2 separate regions of the Homo sapiens genome follow, and region 1 is linked to region 2. A link means that fine-mapping ties the variant in region 2 to the expression of a gene that starts in the linked region. Tissue or cell type: whole blood. Region 2 holds a variant in brackets; the other region holds the start of a gene. All regions are shown on one strand. Distances are from middle to middle.

What was found. PIP is the estimated chance that this variant, and not a neighbour inherited with it, causes the effect.
Region 1: it holds the start of PODXL2, and the variant in region 2 is fine-mapped to the expression of PODXL2 in whole blood (TOPMed, PIP above 0.99).

What each region holds. Positions count from the first base shown.
Region 1 is chr3:127,625,713-127,631,654 of GRCh38, forward strand. PODXL2 (podocalyxin like 2) reads left to right here and starts at 3,473. Exons shown (of 8, transcript NM_015720.4): 1 at 3,473-3,577. The coding sequence starts at 3,508. LOC107986126 (a long non-coding RNA gene) reads right to left here and starts at 3,251. Exons shown (of 2, transcript XR_001740892.2): 1 at 3,094-3,251. RefSeq lists silencers at 3,406-3,475, 3,586-3,715 and an enhancer at 4,116-4,175.
Region 2 is chr3:127,648,993-127,656,770 of GRCh38, forward strand. All of the region lies in intron 2 of PODXL2 (podocalyxin like 2), which reads left to right. Among named protein-coding and RNA genes, the nearest start is that of ABTB1, 20 kb to the right of the region's middle. The variant G/C (reference allele first, on the strand shown) is at 3,360.

The DNA of each region.
Region 1 (5,942 bases), 24 kb before region 2:
TACCCATTAGCAGTTACTCCTCTTCCTTCCCCACCAGCCCTAGGCAACCACTAATCTGCTTTCTATTGCTAAAGATTTACCTATTCTGGACATTTCATAAAAATTGAATCATATAATATGTAGTCTTTTGTGATGGGCTTCTTTCACTTAGAATAATGTTTTCAAGGTTCATCCACGTTGTAGCATGTGTCAGTACTTTCTTTGTATTGCTGACCAACATGCCATTGTATGGGTATGCTACATTTTATTTATGCATTCATCAGTTGATGAGAATTTGGGTTGTTTCCACCTTTTGATTATTATGACTAATGCTGCTATGAACATTCCTGTAATGTATTTGACTAGACATATGTTTTCTATGCTCTTAGGTATGTATTAGGAGTGGAATTATGAAGTCATATGGTAACTCTATGCTTAATCTTTTGAGAAACTGCCTATGTCCAAAGCAGCTGCACCATTTTACATTCCCATCAGCAGTGTACGAGGAGGGTTCTTTCTCCATATCCTATATAACACGTGGTCTCTCTTTTTAATTCTAGCCACCCACCTTAGTGAGACGCAAAGTGGTTTCCTTTTTTTTGAGACAGAGTCTCGCTTTGTCACCCAGGCTGGAGTGCAGTGGTGTGATCTCAGCTCACTGCAACCTCCACCCCCTGGGTTCAAGCAATTCTCATGCCTCAGCCTCCTGTGTAGCTGGGATTACAGTCATGCACCACCATGCCAGAGTAATTTTTGTATTTTTAGTAGAGACAGGGTTTTGCCATGTTAGCAAGGCTGGTATCCAACTCCTGACCTCAAGCTATCCACCCAGCCCGGCCTCCTAAAGTGCTGGGATTACAGGCGTGAACCACCGTACCCAGCCTGAGAAGTGGTTTCTTATTGTGGTTTTGATTTGCATTTATCTGATGGTTAATGAGGCTGAGCATGTTTTCATGTGCTTATTGACATTTGGAGGAATGTATATTCAGATCTTTGTCCATTTTAAAACATTGAGTTGTCTTTATTACTGACTTGTAAAAATTCTTTGTATATTCTAGATACATGATTTCCAAATGTTTCTTCCCATTCTGAGGATTGCCTTCACTTAAATTTTTGTTTCTTTTTTTGAGACAGAGTCTCACTCTGTCACCCAGGCTGAAGTGCAGTGGCACAATCATAGCTCACTGCAGCCTTGAACTCCTGTGCTCAAGCAATCCTCCCACCTCAGCTTCCTATGTAGCTAGGATTACAGGTGTGTGCCACCATGCCTGGCTAATTTTAAAATTTTTCATAGAGATGGCATCTTGCTTTGTTGCCCAGGTTGATCTTGAACTCTTGGGCTCAAGTGATCCTCCCACCTCAGCCTCCCAAGTAGGTAGGACTACAGACATGCACCACTACACCTGGCTAATTGATTTACTTAGAGATGGGGGTCTCACCATATTGCCAAAGCTGGTCTCAAACCCCTAGCCTCAAGTGATCCATCCTCCTACCTCAGTCTCCCCCAAGTAGCTGGGATTCCAGGCACATGCCACCACCCCTGGCAGCTTTAGAGTTTTCTTCATTTGGAGCTTACATATCTGGTTTGGTTTATTCCAGTTTTTAATAATTGTTGCTGTGATTGCGATCTTTTCTCCTACTACATTTTCTAAGTGGTTATTGAGGATACACAGAAAAGCTATTGATTTCTGTACGTTATCTTTTATTCAGCAATCTTGCTGAACTCATTGGTTTTCAATTATTTTGCCAACTGATGATCTTGCATTTTCTAGATAAACCTGCAAATAATGAGTTTTCCCCCAATACTTTCATCCCATTTCTTCTATCAGGCCTTGTTGCAGTGTCTCTTATAGAATATTCAATCATTGTGGTGGTAGTGAGGATTATTTTGTTCCATTCACTTAAAAGAGAATGTTTCTAATGTTTCATCATTAAGTATGGTTTCACCATTAAGTATGATAATAAAGGTTTCTGGGAGATACCCTTAATGGAATTGAGGACGTTTCCTTCCATTTCTTGTTTGCTTCTAAGATCTTTGTTTCTTGTAACAGAAAAACAAAACAAAACACAACAAAAAACCAAAGGGATGCTCCTTTCATCCTCAGAGGAGGAAAGAAGAGGGAAGCTGGGTCTAGACACACCCTGGATTTCTCTTTTCCAAGCCCAGCTGACAGCCACTTTTCTAGTACCCCTAACACCCACCAAATAAAAGGTGCTACATTTTGCTCATGTTCTTTCTTTTGTCTGGAACCCATTTCTTCCCTATGCTCCTCCACCCCAACTCCTATTTCTCCTAAGTATTAATATTTAGTCTGGAAGAGTCCCGTGAGATTATCTCCAATGTCTGATGCTATACCCCTGCATAGGGGGGTGGGGATATACTTTGAAAAAGCATATTCAAATAACGATTTGTTATTTTAAAGAAGTGTTTTCCTAATATGGTATATATAAAGTAACATTCCACAAAATTGTGGTTGCTGTATATTTAAGCTGCAGTACTTCTAAAAGGGTAGTCGGGGTTTTTCTCTCCCTAAAAGAGGCTGAGCTTCTTTCTAACTCAGGAACTCTATCAGTGAGCTTTTCCCTCTGCCTTGTAAGTTCTCTCCCAAACCCAATCTCCTACCTAATACCCACTCATCCTTCCAGATGCCAGCCAGCTTACCTTAAATGCTGTTTCTTCAGGAAGGCAAGCATAAGGTTCCCCTCTGTGCTGTCTCCTAGCCCCTTATACTCCTTAACAGACCGACTACCAATTGCAATCATAGGACCATATGTGTGTCCATTTTGTTTTTCAGTCTGTTTTCTCTACGAGCCTAAACTATGAGGACGAGGGATGTGCCTGTTTTATTTACCACTACAGTGCTTGGCATATTAAGGATCTTCAGTTGCCAAAAGGGAGCACATGTTAGAGAAGTCAGCACCTCTCTCATAATCTAAAACCCCCCAGTTAGCAAATGGGGCAAGTGGGGCCCAGAGGTGAGAAGAGATTTACTCAAGGTCTCGGAACCAATCTGATCCTGAGCCAGACTGCCTAGCTCTAAAGTCCAGTTCTTTGCTCTCAGGTTCTCCTTCAGGGCTCACCCAATCTAAGTACCCTGAGAAGTCTTTCCTTACCCCAGGCCTCTGTCCACCCTCACAGTCATTTCCACGCGTCGTCCTCGTCCCATCAGTCCCATCTGCCACAGCTGCCCACTCTGCTTCCCAGGGAACGGGTGACCGCGCGGGGAGAGAGCGGCATCCGGGCGCGAGGTGCGAGGCCCAGGTCTGCGGGCGGCCGGGCCAAGCCCCCGAGCCTCGGCGGTGCTGATTGGCCGGCCTGGCGGGGGGGACGGGCGGAGGGACGGCCGCCCGCGCGTCCGCTTCGTCTCCGCGGGGGCGCGCCCGCGGCACGCGGCCGGGCGGGGCCGGGCGTGAGTGACGGCCATGCGGACCAATGGGGCGGGCGCGCGCCGCCGCCGCCGCCCGCGCGGCCCCTGACGCGGGCCCGGGCGCCGCGCCGCTGCGGCTGCAGGCGGCGACGGCTACACCATGGGCCGGCTGCTGCGGGCCGCCCGGCTGCCGCCGCTGCTTTCGCCGCTGCTGCTTCTGCTGGTTGGGGGTGAGTGCGCTCCGGGCCCGAGCGCGGGAGGGCGGGCGGCGGCGTGGGCGCGGTGCTGGACAGCTCCCCGGGCCGCCAACAAAGGGGCCAGAGTGCGGCGCCGCCGGGAGCGCGCGTGTCCCGGCCGGGCCGCGGCGCCGCCCCGACACACGCGCACGAGGAGTGGGTGCGTGGGGGCCGCGGCGGGCGCCTGGCGTGCCGGGCGACCCCCGACAAAGGCGCGGCGGTGAAGCTGGGACACAGCACCGTGGCCCCCACGCCGCGGCTCTCAGGGGCAGGTGCGCAGGCTGCTGCCTCGCGGGCCGGGGGGGCGCGCACGTGTGGGTGTGCATGTGTGTGCGTGTGCTTGTGTGTGTGCGAGTGCATTGTGTGCCTGCGCACTCGGGGGAAGAGGCGTGTGTGACAGCCACGCGGGGAGGAGGCCGCATTGTGAAGGTCCCAGGGGCCGCCTGCGGAGTGTGGGGCGGGTACGCTGAGGCGCGGGTGGCTGTTTACGCGTGGCGTTGCCGGGAGGGAGTGTGAGTGTGTCACGGTGAATGGGTATTCTCTCCTGTTCTGGGCGACTCTATTAGGAGCTGACAAAAACGGGCGTACAGCCACGGAAGGCCCGTGACAGCACACGGCGGGAGGCTCCCACGCAGCTCACACACGAGGGAGGTGTGAGACTCAGATGTGTGGTTTCCATTCAGCAGCCACGCCGGGCGGCGGGCTGTGTGGGTGCGTGGCGGGCTGGGGGTGTGGCACAGGTGTGAAAGGGATGTGTCTGCCTGAGAGAGAAAGAGACGGGCCTCCTGATGGCTTCCAGCGCAGACGGGGATTTAGTGGAGGGGGTGTGTAGGGAGGTGGGCATGGGGTGTGACAGCCCATGAGGCAGGCGGCCACTATGGAAATGGCGGGGAGAAGGGCTGTCTGCAAAGGTGGGTCAAATAAGGTCATAGCTGAGCAGCTCCTGCACACACTGGCAGAGCAGAGGGAGTGTGTTACGGTGTATGTTAAGGTGTGACTGGTGCTGCTGGAGGAATACCCGGATGAGGAAGTGTGCATGTGTGCCTGTGCACACTCATCAGCCAGCTGTAACTTCACTTCTGATGCACACGTCAAAATAGCGTCCTAGTATGATGTGTGTATGTGCATGTAGGAGTGTGTATGTGCATGTAGGAGTGTGCACAGGACATTTCCCACGCAGCTGGCCCATGAAGACACAGGCACTTTGTGTCCAGATGTGTGTGAGTGAAAGAGAAACTAGTGAAGGGTCTCTATGGGAAGGGAGGAACAGTCTTTGCCTGAGGTGGGCCATGAACCTGGGACTCAGAGTGGCAGAATCCCAGGGTAAATGGCTGGGAGGGGAAAGTGGTCCCTCGCACATTCCTGTGCATGTCATGGGAAGGCTCAGTTCAGGGAGGGTACATTTTCTCCACAGTCAGTCTAGGGATGAAGAAAGGCCCTAGGTGGTGTGCACAGAAAAACATGTCCATCAGTGTTGGCTCAGACACTCACACAAACCCACCTGTATTCTTTCACGCCGTAAATCCTCTTTGGAAAAAGGCGACATTCAATAAATAAACATCAATTGATTGGTCTGCTATTTCTTTGTGTGACAGTCATAAACCAGAACTGGCCAGCAACGTCCTCATGGACCCAGGCCCAGCTGTAACTGCCCATGTGCTTATGTGACCAGCTGTGAGGACTGCAGGCAGCCTGCCTCCCGGCTCCTCTCTCCCGTGCATGCTCTTCATGACGCACTTCTTACCCCCTGCTTGGAGGGCATGTGCGTGTGTCTAGCAGTGTGTCTCTTTCTTACACACCTTTGTGTGGAAGCCCTTCAGGGACCTGTCAGCATTGTTTCTCAGGTGCTTACAGAGTGGAGGTAGCGTGACTGTGCTCAGCAGTTCCTGTTGTCGCTGACACTTAAGGGTGAGGAGCTGTGTGACAGATGCTGCAGGGCCCCTCCCATGTTGGTGTCTGCCAAGAGCTTAGGGAGACTGGACTTCAAAGACCCTGCTTAGGGGAGAGGTGGGGTGTAGCTGATGGTGGAAATCAGAAAGGAGTTTTGCACCGGGAGCAGATCACAGGGACTGATTTGAAAAGGTAAGATAAAACATGAGGATCGCTGGGGTCTTGTTTTTTTCACCTCCCCAAATGTCAGCCTGCTTCCTTTGCCTCCTTCTGTGTTTGTTTGGGTCAGATTTTCATTTCTTTGAGGCTGATCCCCTAATCCTTTTCATGTGCCATCTTTTTCTCTCTCCTCTGTTGGGTGTGATGATGTAACAGAAAATTATAGGTGCTAGAGGGAAAAAGGAAATCAATCACACGCAGAGTGTAATTCTGAAATTTTAAGTCAGGTGGGGTCTCAATTAAGGCAGAT
Region 2 (7,778 bases):
TGTTGGCCAGGCTGGTCTTGAACTCCAAACCTCAGGAGATCCACCTGCCTTGGTCTCCCAAAGTGCTGGGATTACAGGCATGAGCCATTGCACCCAGCTCTTTCCAGACTTTTTTTTTTTCCTTTATAGGACATATATAAAAATATGCTTTTACAAAAAATGGACAATAGTGGACACTGTGGTATACACATCTTGCTGTTTCACTTAGAAACCTCTTTCCAAGCCAGCACACACAGCTCTGCAGCCTGTTCAAGGCTGCCATGGTCTCCCAGTATAAGGCGGGTCTATCATTTCTTTGGGCAGTCCCCTGCCATGTGGGTGCTGGACCCCAGTCTTCTGCTACATGGACTGTGCCATGATGGGGATCTATAAAGCCACATGACTGTGAGCGTCCCTAATCGTCTCCTTAGGGTACCTTTCCAGAAGTGAGATTGTAGGTTCAGAATATTTGTCTTTAAAGCTTCTCGTTCCTGTGACTCAGTAGCTCTCCAGAAATGTGGCCTGCTTTCCTTCCCATCCCTCACCCTTCCAATACTAGGCATGAATGACTTTGAATGTATACATATACTTGTCAGGTTGGTAGTCCAAAGATTTTGGCATTTTGCAGTTTACTTTATATTCCTTTGATGACTATTGAGGTTGACTATCAAAAAGTAGTTTTAAGCCAGGCATGGTGGCTTACGCCTGTAATTCCAGCACTTTGGGAAGCCGAGGCGGGTGGATCACCTGAGGTGAGGAGTTCGAGACCAGCCTGGCCAACATGGTGAAACCCCGTCTCTACTAAAAATACAAAAATTGGCTGGGTGTGGTGGTGGGTGCCTGTAATCCCAGCTACTCAGGAGGCTGAAGCAGGAGAATTGCTTGAACGCAGGAGACAGAGGCTGCAGTGAGCCCAGATCACACTGCTGCACTCCAGCCTGGACACCAGAACAAGACTTTGTCTTAAATAAAAAAGTAGTTTTAAGTTATACTAAAACGTCTTCCCTTGCACCTCTGTTTTAGACATATTTATTTTTAATTTTGAGTGTTTTTATATTAACACTCAGTTGGATAACTGACTTGAGAGTTGTAGTGAGGGGACAATTTTCAGTGACTTGACATTAACCTAAAGGGACATTTAAAGTGATCTTTCAAGGGCTCTGGCCCTTATGCCTGTTTTAATTCTGTCTCTTGAATAGAAGAATCAGTTCATTGATATTTCAGCCTGTGCTGAAGTTCATCCCTGGGATTATGGCTGCCCTGAGAGATAGAAGTAAAGTCCAGAGTGACTTCGATAAACTGGGGAAAGAAACCTATACAGAACTGTGATGAAATATAGGAGGGAAAAATGATCTATTTAGGGAACAAAGCCAGCACCATAATGAGTTTAAAAGAAAGCGGAGAAATAAGGCCTAGGGGACCCAGGCCTGGGGCTTCATCAGGGTGAGCTGGAGCTGCATCTGAGCCAGCACCAACCCATCACAGGGGGCGCGGGAGAGCTCAGCTTACCAGCTGTGATAAATGACAGTAGTGCCACTGGAGTGGAGAAACCCCTTTACATTTTGCATCAATTAGTCTCAAGTTAGTGAATCTTGTTCAGTTTTCAATAGTTCATTCAGCAAATATTTACTGTGTACCCCCTGTGCTGATTTTGTAACACTCTTTTTTGTTTTTTGTTTGTTTTTTTTGTTGTTGTCGTTGTTGTGACGGAGTCTTGCTCTGTCGCCCAGGCTGGAGTGCAGTGGTGCGATCTCGGCTCACTGCAAGCCCCGCCTCCTGGGTTCACACCATTCTCCTGCCTCAGCCTCCTGAGTAGCTGGGACTACAGGCACCCACCACCACACCCAGCTAATTTTTTTTTGTATTTTTAGTAGAGACGGGGTTTCACCGTTTTAGCCAGGATGGTCTCCATCTCCTGACCTCGTGATCCACCCACCTCAGCCTCCCAAAGTGCTGGGATTACAGGCGTGAGCCACCGCGCCCAGCTGTAATACTCCTAAAACTGTGGTGAGGCTGGGTGCGATGGCTCACACCCGTAATCCCAACGCTTCGGGAGGCCGAGACGGGTGGATCACCTGAGGTCAGGAGTTCAAGACCAGCCTGACCAACATGGTGAAACCCCATCTCTACTAAAATACGAAAATTAGCCAGATGTGGTTGCGGGCACTTTAATCCCAGCTACTCGGGAGGCTGAGGCAGGAGAATCGCCTGAACCCAGGAGGCGGAGGTTGCAGTGAGTTGAGATCGTGCCATTGCACTCCAGCCTGGGCGACAGACTAAGACTCCATCTCAAAACAAACAAACAAAAAACACCAGGGTGAATCCAGAGTTTTCACAAGAGAAGGATGAAAACAGAAAGGTTGAGAATAAAGAATAATTACAGTTGTTTAGCCCCAGGAAAAGAAGCTAGGTTTAGGGGCAACTAAGAGACTATGTACATTGTTTCCTCTGAAGGCGGTGCTAGCAGGTGCTGCTCACTTACCAGATGAAACAGAGATGGACTTGAGTTGTAAAGGAACCATCACAGCTGGGTTTAGGCAAATGGGGGTGTAGGGGTAAGTCAATAACACAGAAATGCCTCTCTAAAGAGACCCAGCCATATTCTTGAAGATAATTGCCAGCCCATCTTCTCTAGACTCACCAGTGCCTGCCAGAGGGCTGAGGCCTCGTCAGGTAGCCTCCTGTGGTCCCTTCCCGTGTTAGGACCCTGACCCTAACCACGGATACACCTGCCGTGAGCTGGGCTGTGTGGATGCTGAGAGGAGCAGAGAACATGGAGTGTGACAGAAGGAAAGTGTGCCTTCTGTGGGCTGGGTGTTTTGCATTCCTGATGCCACTTCATCTTTGTAACAACCTGAGGTATTAGCCTCACATCATGGAGAGGTGGGTGTGTGGCACACAGAGGCAAGTGGCCACCCAGAATTCCAGCCCATGCCTCCAGAACCCTGAAGCTTGGCCTGGGGCTCTTAACGCCAGCCACTCTTGTGATTCAAGCCCAGCTTTAAGGAGGTTGGCTGCGGCCACAAAGGTACGGGCAGACTGGGGAGAGGTCATGATTCTGCTTGTCAGCTTGCTCCTGTCCAGCATCCCAAGCCAAGCCCGGGTGCTGGACTAAATGACCAGGATGTGTCAAAAGACACTGGCTTTAACCACACAAGAGTCTAAGAGTCTTACAACTTTACAACTGTGACAAGTCTAGCATCACAACTTAGAGCAAGAATCCTCCTCTCCTGGGCTCCCTCATGTGGAAAAGGCGAGAGATGGGCCCTTTGCTCTTGCAGGGCCTCTGTCTACCTGTAAAATCCCTGAGTCTGGGATTTGGAGACCCAACTGTTCTGAGGGCTCTGGGGAACATGTGGTTTCTGTTTAGAGCCACCAGG[G/C]GGGGCTGTGACTTCACAGTGCCATTCCCAGCAGTTCTGGGAGGGTCGGGAGCCCAGGAGCCTAAGTGTTATCCTGCAATCAATCCAGGAGGTCCTCCAGGGCTCTCCTGTGCAACGAGGGGGTCTGCCCCAGGTGTCTTCTGAGCTGCAGCTTAGACATTCGTGGCCTCCCATGCTCCGAGGCCCAGCCCGAGCCTCTCCCTGGAGGGCTTGAGCCTTGGATGACCTTTCTCATCCTTCAGTGCCCCAGCTCTTCCTGAGGACAGGGATGAATCCATGGAGCCAGCCCTTAGACTTCCACGTGTCTCCAGTGTGTCTCCCGGGCGGCTCGGCTTCCTCACACCTGTGTCCAGGTGTGGGGCTCTAGAGGTACACCTTGGTCCCAGACACGCTTTTGGGGTTTGGCTACAAACTAAAAGGGCTTCGTGGAGGGACCCTTCTCCTGAGCCTGAAGTGGATGGGGTAGGAAGGGATTCCCTGGAGCGCTCAGCTGGTCAGACCCTCCCTCTGGAATCAGAGCTGTCCACGGCAGCAGGGCTGAGGGTGTGGGCATCAAGGACTTGCCCTGGGTCACTGAGGGCAGGCTGGGAGGGCAGGTAGCCCTGTCATGTGTCCCCTCTCTCCTCCCTCTCCTCTTGCCTCTCCCCTCTCTTTACTCTCCTCATCTTCATCTCCCTCCTTTTCCTGCTCAGCTTCACTTCTTTGTTTCTCTTCTTCCATTCCCAATTTGATCCTTTTTCACCTCCAAAGTGCCTGCTGAGGCTTCCTCTCCCCTCTCAATGCAGCGAGTCCCTAGAAGCCTGATCTGTATTCCTTGGACACCTGAGTGGGAAAAGCACCTTCCTCCCTGTCTCTCAAAACTGTCTCACCTGCTTCAGGGCGGTGTGGCTCCTTCCTGCCACAGGGCTCTGCGCTCTCAGCCAGGATAGCCTGCCCTGTCCCTTGCCATGTTTCTATTCCCCTCTTGACAGCTCAAGCATGTTCGCTGACCTGTAGTGAAAGTCAGTGTCTCAGGCCGGGTGCAGGGGCTCTCTCCTGTAAGCCCAGTACTTTGGGAGGCCAAGGCAGGCAGATCACGAGGTCAAGAGATCAAGACCAGCCTGGCCAACAAGGTGAAACCCCGTCTCTACTAAAAATACAAAAAATTAGCTGGGCGTGGTGGCGTGTGCCTATAGTCCCAGCTACTCAGGAGGCTGAGGCAGGAGAATTGCTTGAACCCAGGAGGCGGAGGTTTCAGTCAGCCAAGATCGTGCCAATGCACTCCAGCCTCGGTGACAGAGTGAGACTCCATCTCAAAAAAGAAAAAAAAAAAAAGAGAGAAAGTGTCTCTCACATGTGCACGCTCTCTCTGTTACTCCTTATTTTAAAAAATTTTCAATTTACAGAAAAGTTGCAAGAATAATTCCGTCCACCCCTTGCTCGGACTCCCCCATTATTAACACTTTGCCGCAGTTGCTGTATCAGTGTGTATGTGTACATGTATGGATATGGAGATGCAGATCTGTACTTCTTGCTAAACCATTTAATGGTAAGTTGCAGACATGATGCTCCTTTGCTCCAAATACTTCAGTGTGCATTTCTTAGGAACAAAGCATTCTCCTAAAAACCACAGCAGGATGATCAAAATCAGGAAATTAACACTGATACAATATGCTTCTGTAATTACAAACTTTATTCAAACTTTGCCAGTTTTCCCAGTAGTGTCTTTTATAGCAAAAGAAAAAAAGAGCAGGGTTTCATAGTCCACTATCCGGTCCAGAATCACGTACTGCATTTAGTCCGCATGTCTCTTTTGTCTCTTTTTTATTCTGGAAAACCCTCTAATCTTTCTTTGTCTTTCATGACCTTGACATTGTTGGAGTGCAGGCCAGTTATTTTGTAGATTGCCCCTCAATTTCAGTTTGTCTCAAATTTCCCCATGGTCAGATTCAGGCTCTGCATTTTTGGCAGGCATATTGTGGACGTGATGCTGTATCTTCTTAGTGAATCGTACCGTGGTTCTGCTCTTGGGTAAAGCCTGGCTTCTTCACTCTTTATTCTCAACTCCCATTTGGATCCAGTCTCACGGGCCCTCTCCTGGGACCCCTGCTTTCACACTGCTGGTGTTTGCCCTGCAGCTGCCCACACAGACGCCCCTCACCCCACTGGTTCCTAGTGTGTGCTCCCATCAGGCCTCCCGGTAATTCTGTTTCTGTTTTAGGAGACATTTGTAATACTGAAATCATATTTACACTTGTCAACAGATGAGTAATCCCCTCCTGCCCTGCCCTTTTTCCTAGATTTTCTTTGACTTAAAACTCAAGTGCTTAGGCTTTAGTTACATTCGGTATAAAAAATGAAAAATAAAAACTCAAGTGCTTATCCTGCTCCTCATTCTATGGAGACACTTCCACTTTTCCTGTTATTATTTTACCAGGTAATAACTCCTTTAATAATAATAATGGCAGGCGGATGGCCAGGTGCGGTGGCTTACGCCTATAATCCCAGCACTTTGGAGGGCCAAGGTGGGCGAATCCACCTGAAGTCAGGAGTTTGAGACCAGCCTTGCCAACATGGCAAAACCCCGTCTCTACTAAAAATACAAATTTTTCTTTCTTTCTTTTTTTTGTGAGACAGAGTCTCACTCTGTCACCCAGGCTGGAGTGCAGTGGTGCAATCTCGGCTCACTGGAACCTCTGCCTCCCGTGTTCAAGCGACTCTCATGCCTCAGCCTCCCAAACAGCTGGGATTACAGGCACCTACCACCACACCTGGCTGATTTTTGTATTTTTAGTAGAGACGGGATTTCACCATGTTGGCCAGGCTGGTCTTGAACTCCTGACCTCAGGTGATCCACCCCCCGCTTGGCCTCCCAAAGTACTGGGATTACAGGCATGAGTCACCATGCCCAGCCATAATACAAAAATTAGCTGGGCTTGGTGGCAGGTGCCTGTAATCTCAGCTTCTCTAGAGGCTGAGGCAGGAGAATTGCTTGAACCTGGAAGGTGGAGGTTGGAGTGAGCCGAGATCACACCACTACACTTCAGCCTGGGCAACAGAGTGAGACTCTGTCTCAAATAATAATAATGATAATAACAACAACAATAATAATAGCAGGAGGAGGTGGAGGACCCCCCACAGTTAACTGAGTGTTTACTCTGCACTGCGGACTGTGCGCAGGGTCACCTCACTGAACCCTGACCAGAGCCCTGTGTGGCAGGTACTATTTTTATTTTACACTTAAGGAAAGGGAGACACATGGAGGTTAAGCAGCATGTCCAAGATCATACAGCTGATAAGCAGTGAAACTGAGACCACACTGTAAAAAGAAAAGGAATAATTTTAGATCTTGAGAGCTGGTAAGGAAGTAGGAAAGGACTGCTGATTCCAAGTGCCAGTGAGCAAGCGTTCAGTGATTTGTCAAGTCACTGGAGTGAGAGGCTGGAAAAAAGCGAGGAGCTCTGGAGAAGATGTAAATTTGGGAGCCTTTAGCATAGAGAAAATAGATGCAGCCTGTGGAATGAGCACTGACCAAGGAAGAAGTGTGGAAATGATGAGTCAGAGGCTGACCCTGGAAGGGACTGCATTTTGGGAGGCAGGAGAGGAACTCATAGAGACAGTAAAGAAGTCTGTGCAGTGACGGGAGGGCCTCTTACCCCTTGGAGGCACAGGCCCTGGTTTTTAGGAGGCAGAAGAATTCAAAAACACACGTTGCTCTCCTTTCTACTCTGGGCCAGGCACTATGTTAGGTGCTGGGAATGTAGGGATGAAGACAATTGCTTTGCTTGGCATCAAAAATTTGTAATCTAGTGAATCCTATTTTATTCTTACTTAAGACACTAGAGTTGTTTGTAATGCCATTGGTGTATAAGACACATTTATCAGAACTATATCCAAAGCTTAAAATATCAGTGATATGAAGAACCTTAGAAATCATATATACCATCATCCTCATTCCACATAAAAACTGAAGCCCAGGCCAGGTGCAGTGGCTCATGCCTGTAATCCTGGAACTTTGGCAGGCCAAGGCAGGAGGATCGCTTGAGCCCAGGAGTTCAAGACCAGCCTGGGCAACACAGGGAGACCCCATCTCTACAAATAATAATTTTAAAGAATTAGCCAGGTGTTGGGCGCGGTGGTTCACGCCTGTAATCCCAGCACTCTGGGAGGCTTTGGTGGGTGGATCATGAGGTCAGGAGTTCGAGACCAGCCTGGCCAACATGGTGAAACCCTGTCTCTACTAAAAATACAAACATTAGCCGGGCGTGGTGGTGCATGCCTATAGTCCCAGCTACTCAGGAGGCTGAGGCAGGAGAATTGCTTGAACCTGGGAGACAGAGGTTGCAGTGAGCCAAGATCGCGCCACTGCACTCCAGCCTGGGTGACAGAGCAAGACTCCATCTCAAAAAAAAAAAAAAAAAAAAAAAAAATAGCTAGGTG